Linked DNA regions of Homo sapiens. The protein of the gene in region 4 interacts with the protein of the main gene of each other region in a pairwise test. Each region holds a gene or a part of one and is shown on either strand. Other genes may lie near its edges.

What was found. Proteins that work in one complex are often made in the same cells at the same time.
Region 1: the proteins of TCF7L2 (region 4) and FBLN1 interact in a two-hybrid assay, tested with the Homo sapiens proteins (one large-scale study listed by BioGRID and IntAct).
Region 2: the proteins of TCF7L2 (region 4) and CCNG2 interact in a two-hybrid assay, tested with the Homo sapiens proteins (one large-scale study listed by BioGRID).
Region 3: the proteins of TCF7L2 (region 4) and KCNE4 interact in a two-hybrid assay, tested with the Homo sapiens proteins (one large-scale study listed by BioGRID and IntAct).

The regions. Positions count from the first base shown.
Region 1 is NC_000022.11:45,509,375-45,512,955, forward strand, and holds part of FBLN1 (fibulin-1 isoform D precursor), read left to right. Parts: intron 1-3,581. UniProt on the Homo sapiens protein: Incorporated into fibronectin-containing matrix fibers. May play a role in cell adhesion and migration along protein fibers within the extracellular matrix (ECM).
Region 2 is NC_000004.12:77,160,199-77,163,779, reverse strand, and holds part of CCNG2 (cyclin-G2), read right to left. Parts: intron 3,060-3,581; coding exon 2,809-3,059; intron 2,301-2,808; coding exon 2,222-2,300; intron 2,132-2,221; coding exon 2,033-2,131; intron 1-2,032. UniProt on the Homo sapiens protein: May play a role in growth regulation and in negative regulation of cell cycle progression.
Region 3 is NC_000002.12:223,050,749-223,055,062, forward strand, and holds the start of KCNE4 (potassium voltage-gated channel subfamily E member 4), read left to right. Parts: upstream 1-1,441; 5' UTR 1,442-1,526; intron 1,527-2,059; 5' UTR 2,060-2,082; coding exon 2,083-2,595; 3' UTR 2,596-4,314. UniProt on the Homo sapiens protein: Ancillary protein that functions as a regulatory subunit of the voltage-gated potassium (Kv) channel complex composed of pore-forming and potassium-conducting alpha subunits and of regulatory beta subunits.
Region 4 is NC_000010.11:113,149,178-113,152,758, reverse strand, and holds part of TCF7L2 (transcription factor 7-like 2), read right to left. Parts: intron 1,777-3,581; coding exon of another isoform or gene 1,762-1,776; coding exon 1,636-1,761; intron 1,035-1,635; coding exon 875-1,034; intron 427-874; coding exon 319-426; intron 1-318. UniProt on the Homo sapiens protein: Participates in the Wnt signaling pathway and modulates MYC expression by binding to its promoter in a sequence-specific manner. Acts as a repressor in the absence of CTNNB1, and as activator in its presence.

The DNA of each region.
Region 1 (3,581 bases), on a different chromosome or scaffold from region 4:
CTGGTTCACCATCCAAGACCCCTGTCATCTCCATGACAGATGCTGGGAACAGGCTCAGCAGTGGACACAGTCAGGTCTTGTGTTGGGGATGGGGCCAGGAGCCCTAAGAGCAGGCTCCAGTTCGCCCTGCTTCCTCCTGCAGAGGCCAGGTGGTCTTGAAGAGGGGACACGAGTCTGTCCTCATCCTGGAACTGTAAGGGATGCAGGGACATAGGCCAATCTGGCTGGACCCCTGGTGGCTTCCCAGACAACATAGTAAAACTCCGTCTCTACTAAAAATACAAAAAATTAGCCAGGCGTGGTGGTAGGCGCCTGTAATCCCAGCTACTCAGGAGGGGCAGGGTGCAGGTGGGGGTTGGGTGGAGTCGCCCAGTCCTGTTTGGTTGGAACTTTCCATCAGGGTCTCTGTGGTTGACATCTTGTTGCATTTCAGGCTTTTCGGTTCCTTGGTTCTGGACACCACGGAGGCCACTCCAACTCTTTGCTGTAGCTTTAGACAATGCTGTGGGGCAGGTGGGGTGGGGGCATGATCCTTTTGTGTGGTGAGTCCGGGAGGCACACAGGATGAAGCCTCAAGCTCCCATTCACTTTTAAAAACTCCTGACGCCCTCAGCTGCCTCTGAGTTTTTGAGCTTGAGCAGAGGAAATCAAGGAAATTGAGGCTGGCTTCTGATCACATGCCTTTACTTCATCCCCAGCTATTCACGGAGCTTTGCCAACTTAAAATATCCTCATTTGCCCGATGAGGATATTAAAATAAAAAACAGACACCCATTCAACCACCATCTCATATCGTCACCACTTCACAGAGGTAGGGGACATTTTAATGCCCCGGATTTTGGAAGGACGCGGTCTCACAATAAAAGACAGTATTGTAGATGGAATCGGGCCGGCTTTGTAGAGGTCCCTGGATCCTGCTTTGCTTTCACCCTATTTTGTTGCAACCCAGTGGAAATTTTGCCAGAGCAATGCCCTTACACAGGGTGGGATTGGGGAAGCCTGCTCTTAACTGCAGGCCAAATCCTCCATTCAGTTTATAAATGAAAAAACTGAGGCCCGGACTTGCTCCGGGTGGGAAAACTCTCAACCATGAGATCAGAAGCAGACTCCAGGCCTCCCGGTTCCCAGCCCCCAGTCTCCCCTCTGTGACAGTCTGCTTGCTCAGCAACCTGGGAATTAAGATCCTCGTGGCTCACAGGCTGCTGGGGATGGGATCAGGCATTGCCCAAAGCTTCTGCGATGTTTACAGCTAGCAGGCTGACATTCTGGAAGCTTCCACCCAAGGAGTGGTACAGAATCTCTCTGAGCATCTGTAGTCTTAGAAAGAGCACGTGGCCATATCCTTCCTGGGTGTCCAGGGCATGGTCCCCGCAGGCCATGTGACCTGTGTTTCTCTGCATGCCTTGGAACATGGGGCATGCCGCTGATCTACACCATAATCTTTATGGAGGTTTAACTCACCTGGAAAAAATTTAGTTTTAGCAGCTGTCCCAGGCAACAAACGGTATCTGAGGCCTGTGAACTGAGCCAGCTCCATCCATCTGCACCAGTTACTCCGGCAGGCATGTGTCTCTCCTGAAGAGAGGTGGTGGATGTGGTGGCGTGTTGGCCATCGGGCACCGTGTCAGCCTGGAGGAGTGTGTGGTTCCTTTGAAAAAGAATGTTCTCCCAATCCTGGTGTGATAACTTTTCCTTTTGTTTAATTTTGAAGCTTCTGTTTTTTCCTGTGGTCAGTGTGCTAATGTAAGCACTTTTCCTGGATTATCTCATCAATCTTCCCCCATTTTTTTTTTTTTTGAGACAGAGTTTCGCTCTTGTTGCCCAGGCTAGAGTGCAATGGCATGATCTCAGCTCACTGCAACCTCTGCCTCCTGGGTTCAAGTGATTCTCCTGCCTCAGCCTCCCGAGTAGCTGGGATTACAGGCATACGTCACCATGCCTGGTTAATTTTGTATTTTTAGTAGAGACGGGCTTTCTCCATGTTGGTCAGGCTGGTCTCAAACTCCCAACCTCAGGTGATCCACCTGCCTCGGCCTCTCAAAGTGCTGGGATTACAGGCATGAGCCACCATGCCTGGCTTTTTTTTTTTTTTTAGACAGTCTCACTCTGTCACCCAGGATGGAGTACAGTGGCACGATCTTGGCTCACTGCAACCTCTGCCTCCCGGGTTCAAGTGATTCTCTCACCTCAGCCTCCTGAGTAGCTGGGATTTCAGGTGCCCGCCACCATGCCCAGCTAATTTTTGTATTTTTAGTGGAGACTGGGTTTTACCATGTTGGCCAGGCTGGTCTCGAACTCCTGGACTGAAGTGATGTCTGCCCACTTCAGCCTCCCAAAGTGCTGAGATTACACCCATGAGCCACTGCTCCCGGCCTCTTCCCCCATTTTTACAGATGAAGGAAGTGAGCCTCCTTGAGTCTTAGTAAGGGAGGGAGCTGGATTCAAGGCTGAGCAGTTTTAACCCGCAGCGTTGCCTTCCCTGGGAACATTCGAGTTGAAGGTTAACGAGATTTTGCAAGAGTTTGCTCTTGGTTTATATCTAATATTATGCTTTGGATCTAACTCACATGGTCAGATGCAGGGGTCAGATTGAGACTGGTTGATTGAAACTCCTCCGAAACAACAGGAAATGATCTGGGAGAGAAGATTCCAGGTCCCCTGAGGCCCTGCTTCTCTCTTGATCCCCCACAGCCCAGTGTCGAGTTACCAGCGAGTGCCTGTTCTGCTTGGGTGGGTGTCCAGTGTGGTACTGGTCAGAGGTAATTTTTGGATCTCAGAGCTGCTCACAGCTGTTGGCGGTCTGGGATGGAAGAAGCAGGCGTGGCTTCGGTTGGCCCACATTATCCTCCTGACTCACAGTGTTCCAGGGCTGCTCAGCTGCCCTAGGGTTTGTGTACAAATGGCCTTGATTTGACACCCTTCTGAAGGTGGGGGGCCTGACTGATCAGGCAGTTGGTTGGATGCTGTTGACCCCCGCAGAACTCTTGGTACCTATGAGGCGTGGAGTTGGCGTGGGGGATCTGTTAGCCCCAGTCCCCTTTTTGCCCCCACCCCAGCCTGGCCGAGAGTCCTGGGCAGGCACTGAGAAGGCAACACATGGGGTAGGACTTGATGAGCAGGTGGATAGGACAGTGAGGTGGGAGGTGCCTCTGTGGGCCTCAGATGGTCCCCAGCCTGTGTGATGGGGCAGCGAAGCTCAGGACACCTGGTGTTTGGATATCCACAGGTGACCGGATCCCCAGGCAAATGAGCAGCTGGAAGTCCCTGCAGGGATGCGGGAGGCACAGCCAGGGTGGGGCTGGACCCCAGGCCCTTCCCCACTCCCATCGCCCCACCCTCACAGGACACACGGGGGAGCTGTGATCCTCAGGGTGTTCTTTTGTTTTTAGTTTTTTTGTTTTGAGACAGGGTCTCCCCCTGTCCCCCAGGCTGGAGTGTAGTGGTGCAGTCGTGGCCCACTGCAAGCTTGAACTCCTGGGCTCAAGCGATCCTCCCACCTCTGCCTTCCAAAGTGCTAGGATCATAGGCTTGAGCCACCATGCCTGGCCTTTTTGTTGTTGTTGTTCTTTTGTTGTTGTTAA
Region 2 (3,581 bases), on a different chromosome or scaffold from region 4:
TTAGTGATATGAGAGAACAGGAATTTCCCAAAAAGGACATAGTTCCGCCACCACTGGGCAGTGCTCCAGTTTATTTCTTTTTTGTTTTTCTTTTTACGTATTTTTTTCCCTCCTCCTTCGGAATGCCTTCAGTTTATTTCAACGAATCAATTTTCACTGAAGATGGTTCCAGCTATCACTATCAATAAAAAGTTCAGATAAAAACTAATAAAATCATAACTAAAGCAAAAAGTTATCTGTTACAAACAAAATGCTTCACATGCACATATTTTCACCAGAAAACAGAAGATCTATTTTCTTGGCTTCCCATTTTCACCTAATGTAGCTACATCCTAACCCACTTGTAATCTGGTTTCTACCACTTCCTTCTCACTGCTCTACTGACATTACCTCTGACACACCCAATGACCTTCAATTTTCATTATATTGGATCTCTTATAAAAATTCAATACTCCTGACCACCTCCTTAAAAACCTCCTTCCAGTCTGACAGTGCTTCTACTTGTGGGGATGTACCTTTCTTCACTTGGCTCCTAATGTTGGGGGGAAAGGCCAACGCTGAAAACCCCAGAGCTTCAACTGACCCCTACAAAAAGGATTCCACAGCTTCTTACCGTTTCAACTACTGCTTCTTCATGAGAAATTCCAAACCTCAATCTCTAACTATAGTTTATCTTCTTATTCCAAAACGCCAAACACCTACTAGACACCCACCTGTGTACACAAGCATCTAAAATCATATTGCTCTCATCACAAATTAACTTCTCCCAAATTTCCTGCCAATTATGCTAATATTATATCCACCATTAGGTACAAATCTTGGTCATTCAAGACTCCTTGCCTCATTTCCATGCTTGGCTTCCAAAACCACTGTTTGAGTTGGACAGCCTTACTCCTGCTTGTGACTACCACCTAGACATTGTACCTGTAAGTCTACCCTAAAATGACTTTTATATCTGTCTAGTCCACCAATTTCTTGGCCGTTAAGCCTTCGCTGAAACTTTCACTGTCAAAGATTCTTTTGCTCCAAACAGGCTCCCAGTCATAGTGTTTCTCCTAGTCTGCCCTATTTCTTTGCTTAAAAAAAACCCAAAGTAAGCCGGGCACAGTGGCTCACGCCTGTAATCCCAGCACTTTGGGAGGCCAAGGCAGGTGGGATCACTTGAAGTCAGGAGTTCAAGACCGGCCTGGCCAACATGGCGAAACCCCATCTCTACCAAAAATATAAAAATTAGCCTGGCATGGTGGTGAGCACCTGTAGCCCCAGCTACTCGGGAGGTTGACGCAGGAGAATCACTTGAACCCGAGAGGCTGAGGTTGCGGTGAGCCAAGATCATGCCACTGCACTCTAGCTTGGGCAACAGAGCAAGACTGTCTCAAAAAAAAAAAAAAAAAAAAAAAAAATCCCAAAGTACTCTCTATATTCACTATTACCTGGCACCAAGACACAATAACAAATGACAGAACACACCACTTCATGTTAAGTTCCTCATTTCCCCAACTAGACTGAGAGTTTAAGAAAAAGTATTGTGCTTTTGTTTTATATCTCTTTGTGATGGTAAGACTTACTTTTACTTAGCTGGCCTAAAGGATTTGAAAAGACATTCGGGTTTAAAACATCAACATTGCTGGTGTTAATTGATGCTGCTGCTAATGGGATGACAGTTCAGTCCTACAGGTGTGATGGGATCCCATCCTATCCCATTAGTGTTTGTTCTGAGTCTACTACCTAGTATGCATTTCAGAACAATGCATATGTGGCAATGTAACAGCTGTACTATCATATGGCATGATTACTACAGAAGGGGCACCTATATGCAGAAAGAAGCTGAGCTAAGTGACCAGGTTCCCTTCCGGATTAATACTGTCTGGGTCAAAGCTGCATTTTGAGAACTTTAACACTAGAGATATAAGAAAAAAAACAAGTGTAAAAGTTAAGAGTCCCATAAAGTATTACTTAATGTTTAAGTCACCACAGAAAAAAATAAACATCAGGAAAAAAATTTGCCTTAAAGAATAATGACTGTAATTACCTTGGAATGTTTTTTAACTAGCAAGAGAATTTCCAGTAATTCAACAGATTTCAAAGTTTCCACTTCCAAATTGAGAAGGCACAAGGCTAATACAGATGGCTGTAAGAAAAAAGAAAAAAAAGAAAAATATTTTTTAAAAATTCAAAATACAAACTGTGAGATATATACATAAGCAAGGAATCGACTTACTTTTGCTTTTGAAAAGATGAGTCGGCAGTTGCAAGCTTTCAGCTGAGCTTCTAGTTTATCAAGGCTCAGTATTTCTTTCCTATACAATGCAAAGAACAAAGATTTATTAAACTTCCAAAGATTTAAATGATTTTAAATGATTTTAAATATTTGCCAGGGCCAGACGCGGTGTCTCACGCCTGTAATCCCACCACTTTGGAAGGCAGAAGCAGGTGGATCACCTAAGGTCAGGAGTTCGAGACCAGCCTGACCAACATGGAAAAACCCTGTCTCTACTAAAAATATAAAATTAGCCAGGTGTGGTGGCGCACGCCTGTAATCCCAGCTACTTGGGAGGCTGACGCAGGAGAATCGCTTGAACCCGGGAAGTGGAGGTTGCAGTGAGCCGAGATCACGCCATTGCACTCCAGCCTGGGCAACAAGAGCGAAATTCCTTCTCCAAAAAAAAAAAAAAAAAAAGATTTACCAATAAAGTCAAAGTTGAAAGTTTGAAGAAGGTAAAAATATAAATTTCATTGCCATTCCAATTATTTACTGTTAGCTATAGCAATGTTCAAAGTACAAAATGTATCTTTAATCCCACTGACCTTTCTGAAGTATGACAAAGTATAATAGTATGGTATAAGTGCAAAAAGTTTAAGGCAGTAGTAGCTTCCAATTCATAGTGCAATTTTTCTGAAATTATTTTTTCCATCCGTTTTATGTCAGAAGCAGTACATTTACACTGACTAATCCGGATCACATCATGAGTGGATGGAATATTGCAGTCTTCTTCAACTATTCTAGCAGCCAGCAAAAAAGAACAGACTCCAATGCAAGACAAATGTTTAGGTTTCACCTGAGAAAAAAACAAGAGGCTTCTTTTAACAACTGTCACTTTGACTTAGCAGATACTTAGAATATTGTAATGATGCTCCTATTCTTAAGACAGAACACAATCAAGTTGTTTCTCTTATATGTACTGGCTCTTTACCCACAATTATACACATTTTCACATTTTAGACGTTCTCGACCTCCCCCCCCCCCCAAAAAAAAAGGCAGCAGGGAACAGTGGCTCATGCCTGTAATCCCAGGACTTTGGGAGGCTGAGGTGGGAGGACTGCTTGAGGCCAGGAGTTTGAGAACACTCTGGCCAACATAGCAAGACTATTCTGGCCAACACAGCAAGCCTCCATCTCTATTTAAAAAAAAAAAAAAAAGTTTTTTGAACCTTTAAATTATGTAAATTCAAATGCAGGTACAAAAATTTCCATGCAGGTTCAAAAGCTAGATTCCTAGCACTAAAGTATAATTTGTATTTCAGACTTATGAAATTCATAATATAATCTCTCCCAAAATAAATTAAGCTTTTTAACACCAA
Region 3 (4,314 bases), on a different chromosome or scaffold from region 4:
CTTTACTGGTGTGAGCACAGTTCCACTGTATGGATGATCGTGATGCTGGAGTGGTCGATGGTTGGTACCTCCAGTGCCAGCTGGGGATTTATGGATGAACACAGGTGAGTAGTCAAGTGGGAAAAATGGCAGCATTCAGTTCATCTTCCTATTCTTCCTCCAGGTGTCTTCTTAGAATCAGGATCAGGTGCAAACCCAGGGGGGTTCCTGTAGCAGCAGTGAAAATTCCAGTGCCTAAGCTATATATGTTCAAGCAGGTCAGGTGGATGTCGCATGCGTCAGTTTGACTACAGCAGAACCATGAGAGATGTTTCCTTTAGAGTTGGCCCACAAGACAGTCTGGCTGCAATCCACAGGCCACAGACAACTGGAGGGAGTGGATCTCTCCCAGTTTCCTTCCACTTAGCATGAAAGCCTCAGAATAAGCAGCCCAGGGAGCAGAGAGACTGACATTAAAGCCTGCAATTCCTCTTCCAATTTTGATCACAGCAGCCATTTAAACACAGGGTCTACCGAGGTTTAAAAAACTTGAACTGTGCTTAGTTGCACTCTGAAATAGTCCTGCTCCTCCCCTGACCTACGAGAGACAGCAAAGAGACGTGTCAATAGCCTCCGCATGAGGCTTCAGAGGAGCAGCTGTGTATGGCAGGACGGAACAAAACCTGCCCATAGTATCTTTTACGACAACATGTTTCCACTTAATGCAGACCACTGAAAAGAATGTGGGAGCTTTTAAAAAAAAATTATTATAAACATAGGTTTGTGACCTTGATGTGGAAGGCAGCTAGAATCTCTGCTTTTAGAGGGCTAAGCAACACCAGGCAGCCTTCAATCTTAGAAGGGTTAAGCTGAAAGGGTCTCAAAAGGTCACGTGGTTTATATAATCCTACCTGCAGAAGACCCCCCCCCCCGCCAGGCACAACGATTTTACAGACGAGGAATGTGAGGTGCGGAGAGGTTAAGGAAGGATTTATCTTATTTGCATAAGGAGTGGAAGAACTGAAACCGAAGCCCCAGTTCCTTGACTGTAAATCCCGCACTTGCTTCCAACTGTCTTTCATCCAGATTATGGGATTCAGCTGCCTCTGAAAACCTGTAGCCCAATAATGGTTATTCCCCAGGAGCCGCGCGAAGCATGAGCTAATTTTCAGTGAGCGCGGACTTTGGGGTAACGGTTCCAGCACAGCACATCCCTTTCTCCTCTTTTCACTCATCGTCACCGCTACCTGAAAACCCTGGCCGGGTGCTGGGGCTTGAGGAGCAGTTCCCACTTCCCAGTCTTTTTCACTTTTCACAGCTGCAAAGTTCAGGGAGTTGAACTGCAGTGCTTTCAGTTCACTGCTCACTCTGCCACGATCAATCTCTGTTGTAAATTTTCCTCCCAGAGCACGTGACGATGCACTTCTTGACTATATATCCCAACTGCAGCAGCGGAGTTGTCAGAGCGCAGAGCCGGACAGAGCAGAAGAACCCTCTTGGACTGGACGATTTGGGAATTCAAAACTTGGGACAAACTGTCAGCCTTGGTAAGTCAGCAAGGCTACACTTTGCTTTCAGAAACATTTGAAAGAGGGACATTTTTGCCAATTAATAGATGAATTTTTTTCCTTTATTTTCTTCCTGCTTTTCTTTGTTCTAAGGAAACATTGTTTTGAATTTAAAATAGTTTGGTTTTGGAAACACAATGTAAACTTTGTTTCTGCTCAGTTAAAATACGTTTCCCAGTTTTAAAGATACTATTTACTGTATGCTCCTGTCTTACATTGATTTTTTTTTTAATCAAAGTAATACTGCTCACTACAAACAGGACAAATGTGTACACTAAAAAAAAAAAAAAAAGTCCTTCTTACTTTTCCCAGTGAACCTTCCCGGGCTTCTCTCCCGTGCACTCCAAGCCCTCATAGCTCACTCTTGTCAGCTGTTTGGCGAACCCTCTTATGCTATTTCTTTCATGCACTTTTAAGCTTTTTTGGTATTGCAGTTCCACAAACCTCGTGCTCCCCCACCTCCCTGTGCCCAGGACCTGGGGGAGAGTTCTAACCTGCGGCTTTTTCCCCAGCCCCTGCTGTGGAGGCAGCCTCAATGCTGAAAATGGAGCCTCTGAACAGCACGCACCCCGGCACCGCCGCCTCCAGCAGCCCCCTGGAGTCCCGTGCGGCCGGCGGCGGCAGCGGCAATGGCAACGAGTACTTCTACATTCTGGTTGTCATGTCCTTCTACGGCATTTTCTTGATCGGAATCATGCTGGGCTACATGAAATCCAAGAGGCGGGAGAAGAAGTCCAGCCTCCTGCTGCTGTACAAAGACGAGGAGCGGCTCTGGGGGGAGGCCATGAAGCCGCTGCCTGTGGTGTCGGGCCTGAGGTCGGTGCAGGTGCCCCTGATGCTGAACATGCTGCAGGAGAGCGTGGCGCCCGCGCTGTCCTGCACCCTCTGTTCCATGGAAGGGGACAGCGTGAGCTCCGAGTCCTCCTCCCCGGACGTGCACCTCACCATTCAGGAGGAGGGGGCAGACGATGAGCTGGAGGAGACCTCGGAGACGCCCCTCAACGAGAGCAGCGAAGGGTCCTCGGAGAACATCCATCAGAATTCCTAGCACCCCCGGGACCCCTGCCGGTGGCTCCATCAGCCAGCAACCTTAGAGAGAGGAAAGACAGTTTTCAAGTGTCTGGTTTCACTTTCACAGTGCGGCTGCCACTTTGAAGAGACCCTTGGTAAACCCCTGATTCGGGGTGGGGTGGGGGACTAGGCTCAGCCGGAACCAGCACCTCCAAGGAGTCCGGGAGGTGCCTGTGGTTTGCACCCACCACTGAAAAAGCCGCGGAGATGCGCAGCGCGTACACTGACTTTGGGGCCTGGGTGTTGGGGTTCTGATCAGAATTTGGCGGGATGATATGTTTGCCATTTTCTCACTGGATGCCCTGGGTAGCTCCTGCAGGGTCTGCCTGTTCCCAGGGCTGCCGAATGCTTAGGACACGCTGAGAGACTAGTTGTGATTTGCTATTTTGCCTAGAGCTTTGTCCTTCTAGATCTGATTGGCTGTAAGTATCTCTACTGTGTACCTGTGGCATTCCTTCACAGTGGGTTACAAGCTTCTTTTGGATTAGAGGGGGATTTTTGATGGGAGAAAGCTGGAGATCTGAACCCAGCCCATTTGCACACTATAAGAAAAAAAAGTAACTTTTAAACCTGTTAACATTGGCCGGGGTTATAAGAGATGATCTTCTATTTTGACCTTTTGTCTAACTTATGACCTTGAACTCTGACCTGTGACCATGCAGCATCACATGATGGCATGACGTTCTTTGGATCAGAAGAGCTTCCCCAGAATCTAACCTGCACTCCCGATGGTGGTTCAGGAGACTCTTCCTGATCTTTCTAGAAGGGGTAAAGTGGGGTTGAACAAGGCCAAGCCGTTAGCTCTGCTGCTGCTCAGTTTCCCAGCCTAGTTTTCTGAGCTGGGAGAGGACATAATGTGGTATTTCGTCACGTAGCTGAGACCTAGAAGGGCATACTCAGGCGGAGATTGCACAAAGCTGGGCTCCAAGTTCTGTGCTTCCTGATCCCGAGCCCTGACACTCATTTGCTGTGTGGTCCCGGGCATGTCATCAAGAAGCTCGCTGTCTGCATGAGGCTCCCGACGATCTCCATCCCCAGGGGGTTGGGAGGATGTCTTTAGATTTTAGGACTCTGTGATAAATATTCCACAGCCTGGTGTGAGGAAGCTTGGACCAAATGCTTCCCCTTTGGCCGGTTAGTCTGAACAAGGATCTGCTGATTTAAAGGAGCAGTTGGAGATTCAGAACACATATAACTGGGGAATTCAGGGCAAGCTACCAACCCAGCCCTGCTGTAGTTTTCCCAGGACTGAAGGAAAGAGGCAGACACCACATTCTCCTCTGCAAAGTTCTCTGGAGAATGTGTGATGTTAACACTCCCAGCTAAGGGAAAGCAAAGTCTAAAGGAAAACACACAGGAATGCTTCCAATGTCTCCAAGTATTCCTGTGGTCAACAGTTTCGCAGATCCGTTAGGCCCTTAAAGACAAGGAGGAAGTAAAAGGTCAAATTTAAATCTATTTAAAAAAACTTTTAAAAAAATTATTTATTTATTATTATTTTTTATTTTTAAGACAGAATCTCGCTCTGTTGCCCAGGCTGGAGTGCAGTGGTGCAATCTTGGCTCACTGCAACCTCCACCTCCTGGGTTTCAGCGATTCTCCTGCCTCAGCCTCCTGAGTAGCTGGGATTACAGGCGCCTGCCACCACGCCCAGCTAATTTTTTGATTTTTAGTAGAGATGGGGTTTCGCCATTTT
Region 4 (3,581 bases):
GGGTGTATCCTAAGAGCCTTGCCTCCTCTAGAAAGGAGACAAGCACCAAATCAACCTCATTGGTCCTGAGCTGGAACACTGGGACTGCAGCCTCCTCTCTCCACCCTGAAGAATGACTGTGAGCTGATCCAACCATCCACACGGGAAGCCCCTCCCTGCAGTTTAGCGATCCAGGAAGATGCTACCAGTCCCCAAAGCGGGCAGATTGGATGGTCCTGAGGCCCACCCTAGTCAAGTGGCAGGTCCTGTTCTCTTTGTCCGTATAGACGCACAACACAGCTCTACAGACTCCAATCCTAACGAAAATGATCCACCTACATAGTTATCCCGCGCGGACCAGCCGGGGTACAGTTGCATATGAAGCTGTCGCTCCTTCCGGGCCAGCTCGTAGTATTTCGCTTGCTCTTCTCTGGACAGTGCATGCCACTGGAGGGGACGTGGGGTACAGATGAGAAAGACATGAACAAAGAGAAAAGCATGAAAGAACATCACACATTACGCCAAGGTCAGGGGATAAATAATGCTGCCTTTTTGGGTGAGTCCGTCCAGAAATGGTATAATCTGTACATACTGACCGTCGGCTGGGTCCTGGCACTAACAGGAATGTTTAGACAAAACTTGATTTGTTATCTATGTCATTCTGTCATTTGCTCACTCGCTCGGGTAGGGGAAGAGCATGGCTGTGGCTGTTCTGAACGCTGAGTGCAGAATAACTAGTCCTGACTCAGTGAAGGCCATTCAAGGATTCAGAATGTGGCTGAAGGGCAAGAATTCTCCAAAGAAATGGGGACAGAGACATTCTGCCACCTGACCTGCTGCACTCTGGTCCCTCACCACCCGCCCCCCGCTTCTCCCTGAGAAGGGCGTCACCTACCCTCCGCCCAAGGATCTGGTTGATGGCCGCGCTTTCTTTCAACGTGCACTCAGCTACGACCTTTGCTCTCATTTCCTTCATATACAACATGAATGCATTAAGAGGTTTCTTTATGTGGGGCTTCTTCTTTTCTTCTTCCTTTTTGGAGTCCTGATGCTTTCTGGAGATAGACAAAACAGACGCAACCCAATAAACAAGGTCGTGGTCCAACTTCCTCCATGGCAGGGAACGTATCTCCTTGTCTCATAACCCCCAAGCCTAGCAGTTTTGGATTAAAAAGCATGCTTTTAGTTCTTCTGCACCCCGGAAAATGGAACAAAAATAGCTTGGGGAGGGGTTGGGGGAAGAGAGGGATTTTGCAATCACTTCCTCAAGTTTCACAAATATACAATTTTCCCAAGCCAGAGGGGAAAGCACATGGTTGCTGTCTTCACCTCGGCAGGGTTTTCTCCTGCTTGCAGAACAAAGCTCTAAATGTTCAATGATGCGGTTAGGGGGCAGGGAAGTGGTTGCAAATCCCAGTGTATCCAAGTACACACACAAAAAACAGTTCTGTTCTAACCCACGGTGGTACAGTGAGATTCTGCCACTGTGCACTCTCTCTCTCTTTGTAAGGGAGTGAAGAGCCCACACAGGCTGGGTATTGGCTGCAGTCAAACCAAACGAGGCCAACCTTAGGCAGAAAGCCACCACCCAGCAGCTGCAACAGGCTTGCAGAACACTGCGGCTACGAAGAAGGTGAGAAAAACAGCAACACTTACGAACTATGGAGTGAGCCGACATCACTCTGGGACGATTCCTGTTTGACTGTTGGTGTGACTATGGCCGGATGCGGAATGCCCGTCGTGTGTAGCGTATGATGTGGTGGGACCATATGGGGAGGGAACCTAGAAGACAGAAAGCTGTGTAAATCGTCAGAATCAAAATGAATGAATGAGGAGGGATGTGTACACACAATTAAAAAGAAAAAAAAAAACAGCACGTAACACTCACATGAAAGCAACCCAAGGCATATGAAACCTGTCAGCATTAATTAGCGATAAATTAAACATAATGATTCTCATAATGTCATTAAAGCCAATTCATTATTGCTACTGACATAAGACATTATGATTTTTAACATCTTTAGCAAAAGACAAATTCAACTGACGTACTTGGGCGGAAAAGTGGGCTTGGACTACCTGCCAGAAATCGCACGTCCACTTGTTTTTTGAGGCATTATTAGTGGCATCTAAGAAGACAATTTCCTAAGTCCTAATCAGCTCTAAAATGAAAGGTGAAATCTTTTGTTGTATATTGACAGCTAAATAAAATATTAACGTGGTTGAAATATACATACATTTTTGACAATGCTGTGCAAGCCTCATTAGGCCTCATCCTGTTGATGAAGTGCAATACAATTTTTATTTTTCTTTTGTGCTGTGTCCCATCATTTGACAGGAATGGGAGAGAGTGAGGCAGGAAGACAGGGAAAATTCAAATAGTTCCTATTTGGTTCATATCATAAGTCATGGACATTTTAAATAAGTTTCTATCCCTTTATGGAAAGATGCAAAAAAAAAAAGGAAAGGAAAGGTGCACACACACACAATAAACCTTTGATTCTGATTTGTATGCCCTTTCTCCTCTAAAATTTAGGATTCCTATATCACTTTTACTTCATATGTTGTCTAGGCATCATTAAGAAGTCTTCTAAATGATTATCAAAATTATAAATGAAAGATACAGTTTGTGTTTTCTCCTCTCATGCTGCTCATTTTTTGGACAGTTCTCTAAGGCACATTTTAGGACCTGAATTGGCATTTCCCAACCAAGTACATTAGCCAGGACAGAAAGAGCTAATCTCAACCTACTCTTGGCCCATCTGCAGACTGACAACTGGATCAAACACCTTTCTCATTTTCAATTTTGCGTGGTGTCACCATGATTTGTACTGGGTTGGAAGACTCACCCCTCTTCAAGCAACATATCCTACTATAGAAAAAATAGTGAGGGACAGAAAGGGCAGAATCCCAAAAGTAAACAATATGGCAGCCTCCTGCTCCAACCTGGCAAGGTGATTCAAGTGAGCAGATGGGAAGCTGTTCAGATGAAGATCATGGCAACTGTTGCTTTCTTAATAAGTCCAAACCAAAGCAGTCCAATGTACCATCCAAGGAATAACAATCTGCTCTTTACAAAGCCAATTCTGGTGGGAACTAGAGGGCCTAATGAGGATCGATCACGACAATTCTTCCAAAATGATTCTGTATGTATTTACAAAGTTTTTTCCAGAAGCGGGCTAGAGATAGTTTCCATTCAGCCAAAATAAGGTAACAAACATTAATTTGAAAAATAATAAAATGATTAAAGTACTAACTGAATCTACACAGATCAACAGAGGAAGGAAAGTTAATGCTGATTCTTGAAGAAGGCCCAAGCCACAGTAGACATTTCACTCAAAAATCCCACGCTGACGTGGCCTTTCCTGCCACTGCCTTTACAAATTTAAGCCAGTAGTGAAGACTGCATGACATGATTTTAAAAATAACAACAATACAAGTCCTTCGAATGTATCAAAAAAAGAGAGAGAGAAGGAAAATGTAAGGAAACAAACATGCTAACAACCTTCATCTTCATCCCCTTCCTCTCAAAATAATGTGAAAAACAAAAAAAGCAAAACCCCTTGGGAGACACTTGGGCTCCAAGTGACACCCTGTTCCTTCCC